Homo sapiens: one gene and its partners. The protein of the gene in region 1 interacts with the protein of each later gene in a biochemical or structural test. Each region holds a gene or a part of one and is shown in the gene's direction. Other genes may lie near its edges.

Region 1 (3,500 bases):
GTTTTAATTAGTATTATGTGTTGAATGTTATTTGAATGTTCTTTTTGGTAAGTATTGAGAGTTTTGTTTTTATACTTGGCCCATTAATATATCACAAAATCATTCTCATAAATCCTTTGATAAATCCCATTTGGCCTTAGAGGATTATTTTTACAAATATTTTTTAAAATTAAGTTTTACTAGCATTTATGATTTTCTTTATCCATTAGTGAAATTGGTCTTTTTTTTTTTCTTTTGTGTGTGCGCTTTGTATTTATCTGTCCATTTTTCCCCTTACTTGAAGATACTGGTTCCAGAACTCTGTGCTATACATCCAATTCCAGCATCACTGTGGAGAAAAGCTGTTTGTCTCCCCAGCATACTTTATCGCCTTCACTGCCTTTTGACTGCAGAGGAGCTAAGAGCCCAGACTGCCAGCGATGCTGGCGTGGGAGTCAGATCACTTCCTGCGGATTTTAGGTATGCCTGTGCAGTCAGCCAGAAAGAACACAGATCATGAGATCCTGTTTGCAAAAGAACAGAATTAAGTTAAAATTGTATATAAAATAATTCTTAAAAGAGTAAAAAGAAAATAATGGATATCTTATGTCTTGTCAAGTCTCAGAGGGAGATGAGAATCTGAGGTCAGAAATAACCATTACTGCTTAAGCCATAACAGTTGGAGTGAGAATGAAATTGTTCTTTGTTACTGCATCAGCATTTTCAGTCTGTTTTTTCTTTTAAAAATCCAAATATATGTTAAAAAGCAATAGCCTTAGCATGTTCTTTGTCTTCATTATTTTCTTCCCATTAGTAAAATCTCTGCATTCTAAAGAAACTGTTGGCTTAAACACTCACATTAGTTCTGGTTATCCAATTGGCAATATCAAGACTGTTCTAGGGATTGAAGGAATTTTAAAATATAATAGGAATAACCACAATATTTATTGGTTAGTTGCTATAGTGCCAAACACTAGCTTAAATGCTGTACCCTGTGTTAGTTAGCTCATTTAATCATTAAGACAGTGCTATGAGATAGGAATTGTTAGCCCTTTTCTCAGGTGCAGAAGCTGAGGCACAGAGAGTTTATGTAAGTTGCCCAGAGTTACTCAGCGGGTTAACCAGAGTGCCTGGGATTCCAACCCGTGAAGCTAGGCCCCAGGTCCTGCAGGATGCCTGCAAGCTTCGTGACCTTCTTAACTACCACACCTAGAGTCTAGGGCCAGGGATTAAAGCAGTAGATAAAACCATGTCCCACTTTATAATTTACACTGTAAATTAAAAATTTGGAAACTTGCTTCTATTCTAAAGTTTAGGAGTACATTTTTGGGATCTTTGTTTTTGTTTTTAAATTCAAATTGCTGTTGCTCTCAGCCTAGCTGTTTTGAAGAATCTGATGTAAAGTTATAAAAATGTCTTTGCAGATACCCTAACTTAGACTTCGGGTGGAAAAAATCTATTGACAGCAAATCTTTCATCTCAATTTCTAACTCCTCTTCAGCTGAAAATGATAATTACTGTAAGCACAGCACAATTGTCCCTGAAAATGCTGCACATCAAGGTGCTAATAGAACCTCCTCTCTAGAAAATCATGACCAAATGTCTGTGAACTGCAGAACGTTGCTCAGCGAGTCCCCTGGTAAGCTCCACGTTGAAGTTTCAGCAGATCTTACAGCAATTAATGGTCTTTCTTACAATCAAAATCTCGCCAATGGCAGTTATGATTTAGCTAACAGAGACTTTTGCCAAGGAAATCAGCTAAATTACTACAAGCAGGAAATACCCGTGCAACCAACTACCTCATATTCCATTCAGAATTTATACAGTTACGAGAACCAGCCCCAGCCCAGCGATGAATGTACTCTCCTGAGTAATAAATACCTTGATGGAAATGCTAACAAATCTACCTCAGATGGAAGTCCTGTGATGGCCGTAATGCCTGGTACGACAGACACTATTCAAGTGCTCAAGGGCAGGATGGATTCTGAGCAGAGCCCTTCTATTGGGTACTCCTCAAGGACTCTTGGCCCCAATCCTGGACTTATTCTTCAGGCTTTGACTCTGTCAAACGCTAGTGATGGATTTAACCTGGAGCGGCTTGAAATGCTTGGCGACTCCTTTTTAAAGCATGCCATCACCACATATCTATTTTGCACTTACCCTGATGCGCATGAGGGCCGCCTTTCATATATGAGAAGCAAAAAGGTAAGAGATGATTTTTTTATTTTGAGCAGTTAATTATTCAGTGTGCCTGAAAGTGGTTTGCAGTGTTGGATAATCTCAGAGGATGAGAACGTATCATGCTCAGAAATTGCTACACCGGCCAAGCACAGCTGCTCCCTTGTTCTACCAGGGCCAGCGAAAGCCTGTGGCAGAACTACCTGGCAGTTGATGAGTATTGCTTTACACCAATCCCACACTCAGGTTTTGGGGCTTAGCTGATCTCCACGTGCCTTACTTTTTGATTGAAAGTCAGTTCAAAGGAAGCTATGCAAGTGTGTACACCCCTTGATCCTGAGGGGGATATGAAGAAATGTGCATTGTAGTCAGTCAAGGAGCTTCTGCTTTGTTGAGTTAAACATTTATTTGAGAGGGTACGTCTTGGCTTACAAGGCATACAGACATGAGTAAGACACAAGTCTTGTGGAGGAGCTCATCTCCAAAGTTTTGGAGAGTGGAGCGGAGAAGAGTAACAAGCTTCACAGAGCTTGGCTGCTCTCCAGTGTGAAGAGGGTGACACCAGAGTTCTGAGTAATTAACGCTCGATAGCTCAGAGAAAGGGCGGGCTCTTAAACTCAGCATGGACTAAGACTTAAGAAAAGGAATGAAGGTAAGATATTCAAGTTATGGGGGAAAAATGGAAAAAAGTCTCACAAGGCAACATGAGCCTCCTGGACAAATACCTTAGAAAGCTGCTGATCACTTGCAGCACTCAGAAGGAAGGAGCATCACTGTTGAATCAAGGATGGCATTAATGGAGGAGGCAAGTTGACAGTGCATAAGCAAAGTGAACAGATGGCAGAGCATGTCAGCGTCAGGGAAGCAGCCGTGGCAGCAGTCAGAAGTGTGGAAATACCTGAGAAAAGGCTTGAAAAGGCAGCTGGGGTGAAGCTGTATCGTGGAAGGCCTTGAATGCTGGGCTAAGGAGTTTGCACGTGTTTTGAATGTTGTAGGCACTGTTGAAGGAATTTAGAGCAAGGAACTATTAATGTTAATAAAGTGGTAGTTTAAAATGATTAATCTGGTAGCAGAATGTAGTGTGAGTTGAAAAGCATATCCAAACCAACAGCAGAAGCAGAGAATGGGATAGAACTAGAGTTCTGGTAGAGAGGAAGGGGCTGAGGTGAGTGAGAATTTCAGAAGAAATAATTTTAGCTAACAATTTAAAAGTGCTTACTCTGCACTACTCTAAAAGATAACCGTATACGCACACACACGTACACACACCCACATATATACACATATATGCATATAAACCTAATTTAATTTTTATAATTCTGAGAGGTAGAAACTTTTATTTT
Region 2 (3,592 bases), on another chromosome or scaffold:
CAGTAGGAGCCATTATGAGCCACCAGTATATTCTGAGCAGTAGATAGATGTATTGAAGAAACATGGTTCTTGATGTGGATGCTTGGATGGAGAGAAGAGAGTTCTGCACATGAGGTGCCCTCAGCCACGATTACTGTGGCAGTCAGGAGGGATGAGGAGAATGTGTGAGAAAGACTGTAAAGGAAGAGTGGACATGACTTGAGGGAATAGGTTCCCCGTAGCTGAGTGAAAGCATGAAGGAGAGGTAAAGGAGAAAGGATTTGAAGATTGCTTCACTTTGAACAGGATGCAGTCAAGAACCATGGCACTAATGGTGTTAAGGAAGTTAAGGAGTTAAGGGCTTAGAGAGAAGACAGCAGTTTGGATATGTTTAGTTTTAGGTGGTATTTAAACTTCCATTTGCAGGTGGCTTATCATCAGTAAGGAATAACAGCTAGGATGAGGGTGTAAGGAGATGTACTTCCTGAGGTTTTGAGTCTGGAGGAGGAAAAGGAGAGGTTAGTGACGCATCAACAATGAGCACTCTAAGGTGGAAAAAGGAACCAGAGGAGGGATGAAAAAGTATTAGAGGCCAGAGGAGAACGGTAAGTATATAGTTTTATAAAGAAAAAAGTTGGCTGGGTGCTGTGGCTTGCGCCTGTGATCCCCAGCACTTTGGGAGGCCAAGGTGGGAGGATGGCTTGGGTCCAGGAGTTCGAGACCAGACTGGGTAACATGAAGAGACCCTGTCTCTACTAAAAATAAAAAGAATTAGCCAGGTATGGTGGCACATGCCTGTAATCCCAGCTACCTGGGAGGCTGAGGTGGGAGGATCTCCTCTGAGCCCAGAATTTCAAAGTTGTAGTGAGCTATGATCACACCACTGCACTCCAGGCTGGGAGATGGGGTGAGACCTTGCCTCTGAAGAAAAAAAAAGAAAGAAAAAGGTTAACATTAACACTAAATAAGTTATATTTGATTTCAATTTTATTTGAGTTTTACATTCAACTCTTAATTTTTAGATCTTTGGCACCCAGATTTGACCTTCCTGACATGAAAGAAACAAAGTATACTGTGGACAAGAGGTAAGATTTTAAGTGCTGAAGAAAGAAGAAGGGGTAATGCTGTCGGTGGATGTTTTTGGTAGTTGTCTGTGAAATGGCCATGATCCTGTCAGTTAAAAATATTTGAATAAGATTAACTACGCAGGGTAAGAACAATAGTCTTAGGCTTATCATTAAGAGGGGGCCCAGGAATGGGATGACCCATATTATGATTTTGTTCCCAAACCAAGAATCTAGTTGGTTGTTTTGATACTCCCTTAGCTTTTTAGCCCTTTCTTTAAGTTTTTCATCAGCGTTTCTTACTAGGCCCAATTGGTTGAGATAAAAGCAACATTCCTCACCCAATGAGAGGCAGAGGTCCCTTTTTTCAGCCATTATTAGATCTAGTCCCCATCTGTTTTGGAGGACTACTCCAGCCGAGGAGTCTAGTTTGTCTTGGACTCTTATAATGCTTCAGGCTATATCTTCTAAAGAACCCTGTAATTCTGTGGAAAGAGCTTTAAAGTATGTTAAGGGAGTGGCCAATCTGCCTGCTCCCAATCCAAGTCTGGAGGTTATATCCAAGGCAGCCATTAAAGGAATGACGTGGATGGCCCTCCTCTTCCTAACGTATTGGATGGATGGAATGGGCAAAGGTTGGCTAGGAGGAATTAGTCCAATGGAGGGAGAAAGATAAACTAGGGTACAGGTTCCAGTCCAGTTAGTGGGGAGACAAAGATATGTGTTGGTGCCACTCACACAAAAAATAAGCCTTTGTCATAAATACAGTTGGAGATACAGAAAGAAAACAAGTGAATTAAAGATGGGTGTTTTTTCTTTCCTATGGTTCATTACTCCAGGTGGTCAAGGAGGAGGTCAAGGAGACACCCACTATAGTAGCGATATAGGAAGAGTTATTTTTTACACATTTAATACGATTTGATGTTGCACCATTGCATTGATGTTGAGCCATGGATAAAGGTGGGCGCTAGGGGCAGCACAAATTAGGCCAGAGGCATTGGTTGAGGGAGAGGCTGCAAAACGAACAGGTTGCAGAAATGCTCCATTCGTTTCAGGTGATACTTGGTAGTCAACTCGGTTAGTTTGATGGTCAGCAGGGTGTTTAACAATGATAATGCGGTTGCATTGGTTAGGTTTAAGGATCTTACACGGAAATTTCCCTCAGAGGCTGAAAAGCAAAGTGAGGCTTGTTGTAAAAGTGGGGTGTGTTTAATTATGGGCCCTTCAATGGGAGGGCCTTGTGGCTTAAGGCGTTGTAGGGAGTTGTAATAGGTTTGAAATAATGTGTTGGCCTGATTGACCTTGGAAGTGGGATAATCGCCAACCAGACTGTCAGCTCTTTCAAAAAAGGAAGCTCCTTTTTGGAGTTTATAGATTAGGGTTACGTTTTCTGTTAAAAGGTCATGAAGGGGTGTAGGAAGGGATGTATAAGCTGAAGAAGACAGCGATAAACACATCCAGCATTCTGGAGCAAAGGAAGAGTTAGCTTGCAGCAAGAGGGGTTGTGTAAGGTTTATAGAACGTTCTAGTTTGATAGCAGTGAGGAGTGGTTGTATCGGTGAGGTTGATGTGATTAGGGAATTTAGATAGAAAGAAACAACAAAAGGAGGAAAAAGTTTGGGTAGGAATAAAGTCCTGGAAGGTTCCTTGAAGCCATAAATCCCGTGGAATAGTAAGGAGCTGATCAGGATGTATAATGAGAGTTTCATAAGGATACCACTGAAGGTCTGTAACAAGGCTAGTTAGGAAGCAATGAAAGTTTGGGAGAGAAAGAGACATAGCTGCTTAGGTGAATTTCTCTTCCTTTTCCTCCGGCATTCATGTGAGATGAAGGGAAGTGGATCCTGTGGAGACACAAGAGAGGCTGAAGGTGGTTTAGATTTGATTGTTTGGATGTGTAGTGAAGGGAAGTCTGTGTTCTTGAGAGAAGTATAATGAAACCAGCTGGGGAGTCCCTGGAGCTTTGCTGCTGTGGGTGTAGTGAGGAAGATCTGGTAAGGCCCCTTCCATTTTGGTGTGAGGGGGGAATTGGGGGTAGGGCTGGGACCTTTTACCAGAACCCAGTTTCCTGACTGTAGGAAGGGATTAAAGGAGTTGTATTTTGTCAGCATATTCCCAAATGAAATGGCAGATGATATGCAGAAGAGGAGAAATGAGAGGGGTTGTTAGAGGTGGGGCTTGACCCTGAGGTGGAACAAAAGGAGCATGAGTTCAAATACTTATGCTCAAAACTCCCATACATGAGTTCAAAGGGGATGAGCATTAAAGGTTTACGTGAGAGTGCCCGAATTTTTAGGAGGGCCAAAGCTAGAAGTGTAACCCAGTCTTTATGTGTTTGGAGTGAGTACCTGGTGCGGGTGATTTTTAGAATGCCATTCATTTTTTCAACCTTTCCTGAAGACTGGGGTTGATAGGGGATGTGTAGCTTCCAGGTGATTCGTAGGGCTTGTGCAAGTGTTTGAGTAATTTGAGAAATGAATTCAGGACCATTATCAGATTGAAAAGAAGGAGGCACCCTGAACCTGGGGATGATTTCTGTTATTAATTTG
Region 3 (3,592 bases), on another chromosome or scaffold:
TCTCTTTCTCTCTCTCTTTCTTTTCCTTTTTTTCTTTCTTTCCCTCCCTCCCTTTCTTTCCTTCTCTCTTTCTCTCTCTCTCTTTCTCTTGCTTTCTTGCTTTCTTTTTTTTTTTCCCAGACAGAGTCTCACTCTGTTACACAGCCTGGAGTGCAGTGGTGCAATCATAGCTCTCTTCAGCCTTGACCTCCTAGGCTTAAGCGATCCTTCTGCCCTCAGCCTCCCAAGTATCTGGGACTACAGACATGTGCCACTACACCCAGCTAAATTTTGGGGTTTTTGACAGACCGCAAGAATGAGCTGGCCCACTTGGCAACTCATGGCCCAGAGAATCCAAAACTGGAGATGCTGGAAAAGATCCTGCAAAGGCAGTTCAGTAGCTCTAACAGCCCTCGGGGTATCATCTTCACCCGCACCCGCCAAAGCGCACACTCCCTCCTGCTCTGGCTCCAGCAGCAGCAGGGCCTGCAGACTGTGGACATCCGGGCCCAGCTACTGATTGGGGCTGGGAACAGCAGCCAGAGCACCCACATGACCCAGGTGTGGGCTTCGGGGAAAGATGCTGGCGCTGGGAGGGATTCCATAGGAGAGAAGTGCGGGGAACAGGGTCTTCAGCACAGAGAGGTGGGGGCAGGGAGACCCTGGGGAAAGAGAAAGTTGACTATCCCCAGGCAGAGGGGCAAGGAGCTAGGGGAGAGGGGCGGACACTGACCTCCCCAGTGCTGGAGCCTCTCCCAGTCTGGAGGTCCTTGGGGGCAGAAGGTTGGGCATGGGGGTCCGTAGGGAAAGAGGTGGGTGATGCAGTTCCTCAGGGCACAGGATCAGGTCTGGGGTCCCTTGCAGAAGACTATGGCTTGAGAGTTTTTCCTAGACTAGAGGGGCAGGGACCCTTAGGAGTCCCTAGGGAAGATAGGGGTTGGACAGTTACCTGGGAAGATGGGCAAGATCCTGGGGGTACCTGGGGATAAAGATGGGATTCAAGTACTCTAGGGAGATGGACCAAGATTGGGAGTGAGGGCTGAACCAGAAGAGGCTACTCTGGCAGGTGGAGTCAGTCTGAGCCTCCTCATGTACCAGCCTCTTTCTCCTCCCTGCCCTCCGCCTGCAGAGGGACCAGCAAGAAGTGATCCAGAAGTTCCAAGATGGAACCCTGAACCTTCTGGTGGCCACGAGTGTGGCGGAGGAGGGGCTGGACATCCCACATTGCAATGTGGTGGTGCGTTATGGGCTCTTGACCAATGAAATCTCCATGGTCCAGGTACTCACATCCTCCTCCACTCAGCCGCCCTTATAGGATCCTGTGTGGGGCCCCAGCCCAACTCAGGACACCCCTTGTCTCTCTTCCCAGGCCAGGGGCCGTGCCCGGGCCGATCAGAGTGTATACGCGTTTGTAGCAACTGAAGGTAGCCGGGAGCTGAAGCGGGAGCTGATCAACGAGGCGCTGGAGACGCTGATGGAGCAGGCAGTGGCTGCTGTGCAGAAAATGGACCAGGCCGAGTACCAGGCCAAGGTCTGCAGGCAGCCTGCATGCCCTGTGGGAGGGATGGGGAGGAGGGAGCCCCTCCCTGGCAGGTTTCTGACTGCACACATACGTCCCCCTGTCCCCTCTACATCTCGGGGCTAACTTTGGCCACCTAGGGAAGGTTTAAATAAGGGCCGGGGTGGGGCTGCCAGGGAAGGCAGTACCTGGACTCCAGAAGGCCTTGGGAACAGGCCTTGTCCAAGGCTCTTTATTTATCTTTGCCATGAGATACTTTATGTATCTGGAAGAGCTGCATTACAGCCTTTCTGGAACCAGGCAGAGGGGACAAGATAAGTCCACGTGCAGAAGATAAGCCCAGAACTAGGACTTATATCATCAGTTCCCCTGAGGCAGGGCCACCACCATCCTGCCTTGTCCAGGGTGCTCCCTGTTGTCCCAGCATAATTGTTAATGATGCCCCATGACAGATTCACAGAAGCAGCTTTGCCTAAAGTCCTTCAAGATTGAGCAGGAAAGCTTACCCCTCCCACTGTTGCCCCCGACTACTCATACTGTTTTTCTCCATAGCTGTTTTTTTTTTTTTCCCCGAGACGGAGTCTCACTCTGTCACCCAGGCTGGAGTGCATGGCACAATCTCCACCTCCTGGGCTCAAGCAATTCTCTTGCCTCAGCCTCCCGAGTAGCTGGGATTACAGGCATGCGCCACCATGCCCGGCTAATTTTGTATTTTCAGTAGAGATGGGGTTTCACCATGTTGCCCAGGCTGGTCTCGAACTCCTGACCTCGTGATCCACCCGCCTTGGCCTCCCAAAATGCTGGGATTACAGGCATGAGTTACTGCATCATCACAGCAATAGAGCTTCTTTTAAGCTCCAGGGAGGGTTAAGGAAAGTCTCTTCCAGGTACAAATGATCTTAGTTCTTTGGGAACCTTTTGTCCCCCAAGGAACGTTCTCTTAGGCCCCAGCCATGCCTGGTGTCTCCTCCCACCCCAGATCCGGGATCTGCAGCAGGCAGCCTTGACCAAGCGGGCGGCCCAGGCAGCCCAGCGGGAGAACCAGCGGCAGCAGTTCCCAGTGGAGCACGTGCAGCTACTCTGCATCAACTGCATGGTGGCTGTGGGCCATGGCAGCGACCTGCGGAAGGTGGAGGGCACCCACCATGTCAATGTGAACCCCAACTTCTCGTGAGACCTGTGGAAGGGGCTACTGGGATGGGGGCCTGGGAATCCTTCCCATCCAGACAGTGCTTTGAAGCTTTGGGAAGCTAAAGAGCATTGTAGCAAGTACTTTGCATTTTCACAATAATCTGGTTAGACAGGTTTTATCCCTGTCTCCATTTTACAGGCAAGGAAATAGAGGCTCAGAGAGGCTATGTGACTTGCCCAAGTTCCCACAGCCACTATCTGGTTGAGCAAGAACTGGAATTCAGGATACTAAGTGTCAAAAGACCACACATTGACCCTCTGGTCCTACCTATTCCGAAGATATCAAGAGAGCTTGGCCATCCCTGGGCCATCCTCCATCCACTATCTCCTAGAGAGTAACCTTCCCCCATCCTCCATCCATTCATTATGTTACCCTCTGTGTTCCGGGCCACTGTGCCAAGGATCTTCACACAGATTTTCTCAATTGAGGAGGTTGCATTTCAGCTAGGTCTCAATGGGTCTGGTTTGAATGTGAGCGAATGAGAAGGTAACCATGGAGGGCCAGGTGCAGTGGCTCACGCCTGTAATTCCAACACTTTGGGAGGCGGAGGTGGGTAGATCACTTGAGGTTAGGAGTTCAAGACCAGTCTGGCCAACATATTGAAACCCCTTCTCTACTAAAAAAAAATACAAAAATTAGCTGGGCGTGGTGGCCCATGCTTGTAATCCCAGCTACTTGGGTGGCTGAGGCATGAGAATCACTTGAACCCGGGAGGCAAGCCAAGATCGCACCACTGCACTCCAGCCTGGGCAATAGAGTGAGACTCTGCCTTTAAAAAAAAAAAAGCGACACCAGTTGACCTGAGTGGAAGGGACTGTGAATAATGAGATTTAGAAAAAGACAGACTAGCCCGTGGAAGATTTGAAAGGTCAGGTGTGAAAGTGTAGCCTTTATCCAGGAGG
Region 4 (3,592 bases), on another chromosome or scaffold:
CCCCTCCAAGACAGTTGGTAGGAGTATAAATTGGTTCAGAAATCAGTTTGGAAGTATTTATCAAAATTAAAAGTGTACATGTTCTTTGACTTAGCAGTTCCACTTCTAGAAATAATTCTACAGAGAAACTCATTCAAGTGCAAAAGAGTGTTTATTGCTAGTAAAAGCAAGAAACTAGAAACAACCTAAAGCTCACAGTTGGAGATCCGTAAGGTAAATACAGTGCATATATGTGCACTGATAAAAGAAAAATGAACAAGATGTAGAGGAGTAAGTTATCATTTGCTTTAAAAGATTGTGTGTGCTTGCATATGCATAGAACATTTATGGGAAGATACTGAAAAATGTTTAACAGTATGTCTAAGAAATAGAACAGAGGTCTTCAGGGAATGGGTGGTAAGGAAAAGAGACTGTACTCTTCATTATATATTTGTTCTTAGTGCATGTATATTTTTAACCATGTAAATAGTGTTCTTTATTTAAAAACAGTATTTTAAAGTTTCTATAATGTAAATTTTTATTTGGTAAATCTAATAAATTACTTAATTCCATATCATGCCATCTCTAAAATCTTTTGGAAATTGCCTCCCCTCTGTCGTGCTCATTAATAAAACAATATTAAGAGTAGTAACCCTACTTACTTCAGAAAGTAGTTGTTTTTATTAATGGCATATGAAAGCAATTTGAGAACCATAAACTAATATGGAAATATAAGGCATTCTAAGGACAGAGATGAAAAGGGAAGGATATAGGGGAGGATAAAGGAAAGAGGAAAAGCAGAAAGAAAAAGGAAAAAAATACTCAGTTGGGTTCTGGGATAGAAGTCTGATAAGAACTTTTTGACATCCTGTCATTTATTTGAATGACTTGTTCCTCAAACCCAACGCGCACATTTCATGTTTTTTTTAGTTTTTTTTTCTGTTTTTTTTCCTGTTTGATAGCTGTCAGTTATAGTGATTGGTATTTAATACAAAAAAAACCAAAGATATGAAAATTGTTCTATATTTTAATCTGCAAATTGCTCCATTAGGCAGATTTAATTATTTGTGGATTTACTTATGGTGCTTCCAGATATCTTGTACCTCTTAATGTGACCATCAGAAAACTTGACTGAGAAACATTTGTACTATACAAAATACAAAATGCTTTCAGTATATTATTGCAAGTGCTTCTTAAAAACATATAGTATTGTTAAATGTGTACTTTTTAATGTTGTCTTGTTTAAATTGGAAAATTAACCAAATGTTATCCATTTAAACATGCTTTATAACATATTAAATGTGAGTGCTTAATAAGTACTTTTAATGATACTGGTACGGGTGTTGGAACCCAGTCCTAGTCAAGAGTCTAAATCTTCATCTCTGTTTTTCAGACAAATGTAGTAGGACATTCTTTAGGATGTACTTGGCATTCCTTGAGGAATTCTCCTGGTGAAAAGATCAACTTACTGAAAAGAAGCCTCCTTAGTATTCCAAATACAGATTACATCCAGCTGCTTAGTGAAATTGCCAAGGAACAAGGTTTTAATATAACATATTTGGATATAGGTATGATTTTTTTTTCTTTGGCTTTCCCAAGACATGTTTATTTAAAAATGTGTTTGAGGAACAAAAATGTGTTTGAGGAATAAAAATTTCTATTACAATTTATTTTATTGATCAGGGATTCTAAGTATATATAATTACTAGGCCAGTAATATATATAATTGATATGTCCCATTCTTGTGGATAGTAATAATAGCTAACATCTATACAGTTATAACAAAAACAACAATAGCAAAGATAGAGTTTTACTGTGTGCCAGACACTGTTCTAAGATTACACGTATCTACTTACTGAATCCTCAGACTAACTCTATGAAGCAAATTCTGTTATCCTTATTTATAAGTAAAGGAAGAAAGGCACAGAAAGGTTGAGAAACTTGCCCAAGATCACATAGCTAGTCAGCGGTAGAGCAAGATTTGGGGAAGAGTCCCAGAAGATACCCTGGCTGTTAAACTAGCCCTGCTGGGCAAATGAAAAGGCACCTACATTTCTAGCACAAGTACAAGTTTGTGGTGCCCAGACCTTTTCTCTCTACTTTGTCACTGTATGCTGATTCTGGGAGGTAAATGGAACCAAGTCAATTTATAGTTTTATCCCATCTCAGCCATCATCATCTGTATTTTCTCTAGCCCTTAATCATTTGGATAGACAAATATGGACAGATGGGAAAGCAAGTCAGTATGGATTTTCTTTTAATTCAATTTATAGAGCTAATTAGTTGTGTGTGTTTGGTGTCTTGATTTTTTTTTTTTTTTTTTTTTTTTGAGACGGAGTATTGTTTCTGTTGCCCAGGCTGGAGTACAGTGGCACAATCTCAACTCACTGCAACCTCTGCCTCCTGGGTTCAAGCGATCCTCCTGCTTCAGTCTCCCAAGAAGCTGGGAATACAGGCATCCACCACCAAGCCTGGCTAATTTTTTTTTTTTTCCCCAAGATGGAGTCTTGATCTGTTGCCCTGGTTGGAGTGCGGTGGCATGATCTCAGCTCACTGTAACCTCTGCCTCCCAGGTTCAAGCAATTCTCCTGCCTCAGCCTCCTGAGTAGCTGGGACTACTGCTGTGTGCCACCACACCCACCTAATTTTTGCATTTTTAGTAGAGACGGGGTTTCACCATGTTGGCCAGGCTGGTCTCAAACTCCTGACCTCATGATCCACCCACCTCGGCCTCCCAAAGTTTTTTTTTTTTTAGTAGAGATGGGAGTTTCACCATGTTGACCAGGCTTGTCTCAAACTCCTGACCTCAAGTGATCTGTACACCTCAGCCTCCCAAAGTGCTGGGATTACAGGTGTGAGCCACCGTGCCTGGCCAAAGTATCTTGATTTAACATGTGTGAGAAATTTTATATCCCTATCCAACCACAGAAAGATGTGGGGACCTTGCTTGTCAGGGTCCCCTGACCCTGGGAAAGTAGGGCACTTAGGGGCTCAAAGAACTCCTGATATTCTGTGCTACTTTGGGATTGAAGGACGGGTGAAGTGCATTGTCTCAGTAAACCAATAATGATGCAGAACCTGGGAAGTCAGTGCAGACAGATGGTTAGAAAAGGTGGCTGATGAAAAATTAGCTGGGTGTGGTGGCACATGCCTGTAGTCCAGTCTACTAGGGAGGCTGAGGTGGGGACAATGACTTGAGCCTCTGAGGTTGAGGCAGCAGTGAGCCATGATCATGCCGCTGCTCTCCAGCCTGGGTGACAGAGTTAGACTTGTCTCAAAAAAAAAAAAGAAAAGAGGCTGGAGGCCAGGTGCGGTGGCTCACACCTGTAATCCCAGCACTTTGGGAGGCCAAGTCGGGCAGATCACCTGAGGTCAGGCGTTTGAGACCAGCCTGACCAACACGGTGAAACCCTGTCTCTACTAAAAATACAAAAATTAGCCAGACAAGGTGGCGTGCACCTGTAATCCCAGCTACTCGGGAGGCTCAGGTGGGAGAATCACTTGAACCCGGGAGGCAGAGGTTGCAGTGAACCGAGATCGCGCCACTGCACTCCAGCCTGAGTGACAGAGTGAGACTCTGTCTCAAAAAAAAAAAAAGAAAAGGTGGCTGATG

The links.
Region 2: the proteins of DICER1 (region 1) and EIF2AK2 form a complex in vitro, tested with the Homo sapiens proteins (one study listed by BioGRID).
Region 3: the proteins of DICER1 (region 1) and DHX58 form a complex in vitro, tested with the Homo sapiens proteins (one study listed by BioGRID).
Region 4: the proteins of DICER1 (region 1) and PRKRA form a complex in vitro, tested with the Homo sapiens proteins (one study listed by IntAct).

The regions. Positions count from the first base shown.
Region 1 is NC_000014.9:95,102,030-95,105,529, reverse strand, and holds part of DICER1 (endoribonuclease Dicer), read left to right. Parts: intron 1-283; coding exon 284-459; intron 460-1,403; coding exon 1,404-2,184; intron 2,185-3,500. UniProt on the Homo sapiens protein: Double-stranded RNA (dsRNA) endoribonuclease playing a central role in short dsRNA-mediated post-transcriptional gene silencing.
Region 2 is NC_000002.12:37,132,956-37,136,547, reverse strand, and holds part of EIF2AK2 (interferon-induced, double-stranded RNA-activated protein kinase), read left to right. Parts: intron 1-1,001; coding exon 1,002-1,064; intron 1,065-3,592.
Region 3 is NC_000017.11:42,102,684-42,106,275, reverse strand, and holds part of DHX58 (ATP-dependent RNA helicase DHX58), read left to right. Parts: intron 1-286; coding exon 287-540; intron 541-1,108; coding exon 1,109-1,258; intron 1,259-1,348; coding exon 1,349-1,510; intron 1,511-2,477; coding exon 2,478-2,668; intron 2,669-3,592.
Region 4 is NC_000002.12:178,434,100-178,437,691, reverse strand, and holds part of PRKRA (interferon-inducible double-stranded RNA-dependent protein kinase activator A), read left to right. Parts: intron 1-1,372; coding exon 1,373-1,547; intron 1,548-3,592. UniProt on the Homo sapiens protein: Activates EIF2AK2/PKR in the absence of double-stranded RNA (dsRNA), leading to phosphorylation of EIF2S1/EFI2-alpha and inhibition of translation and induction of apoptosis.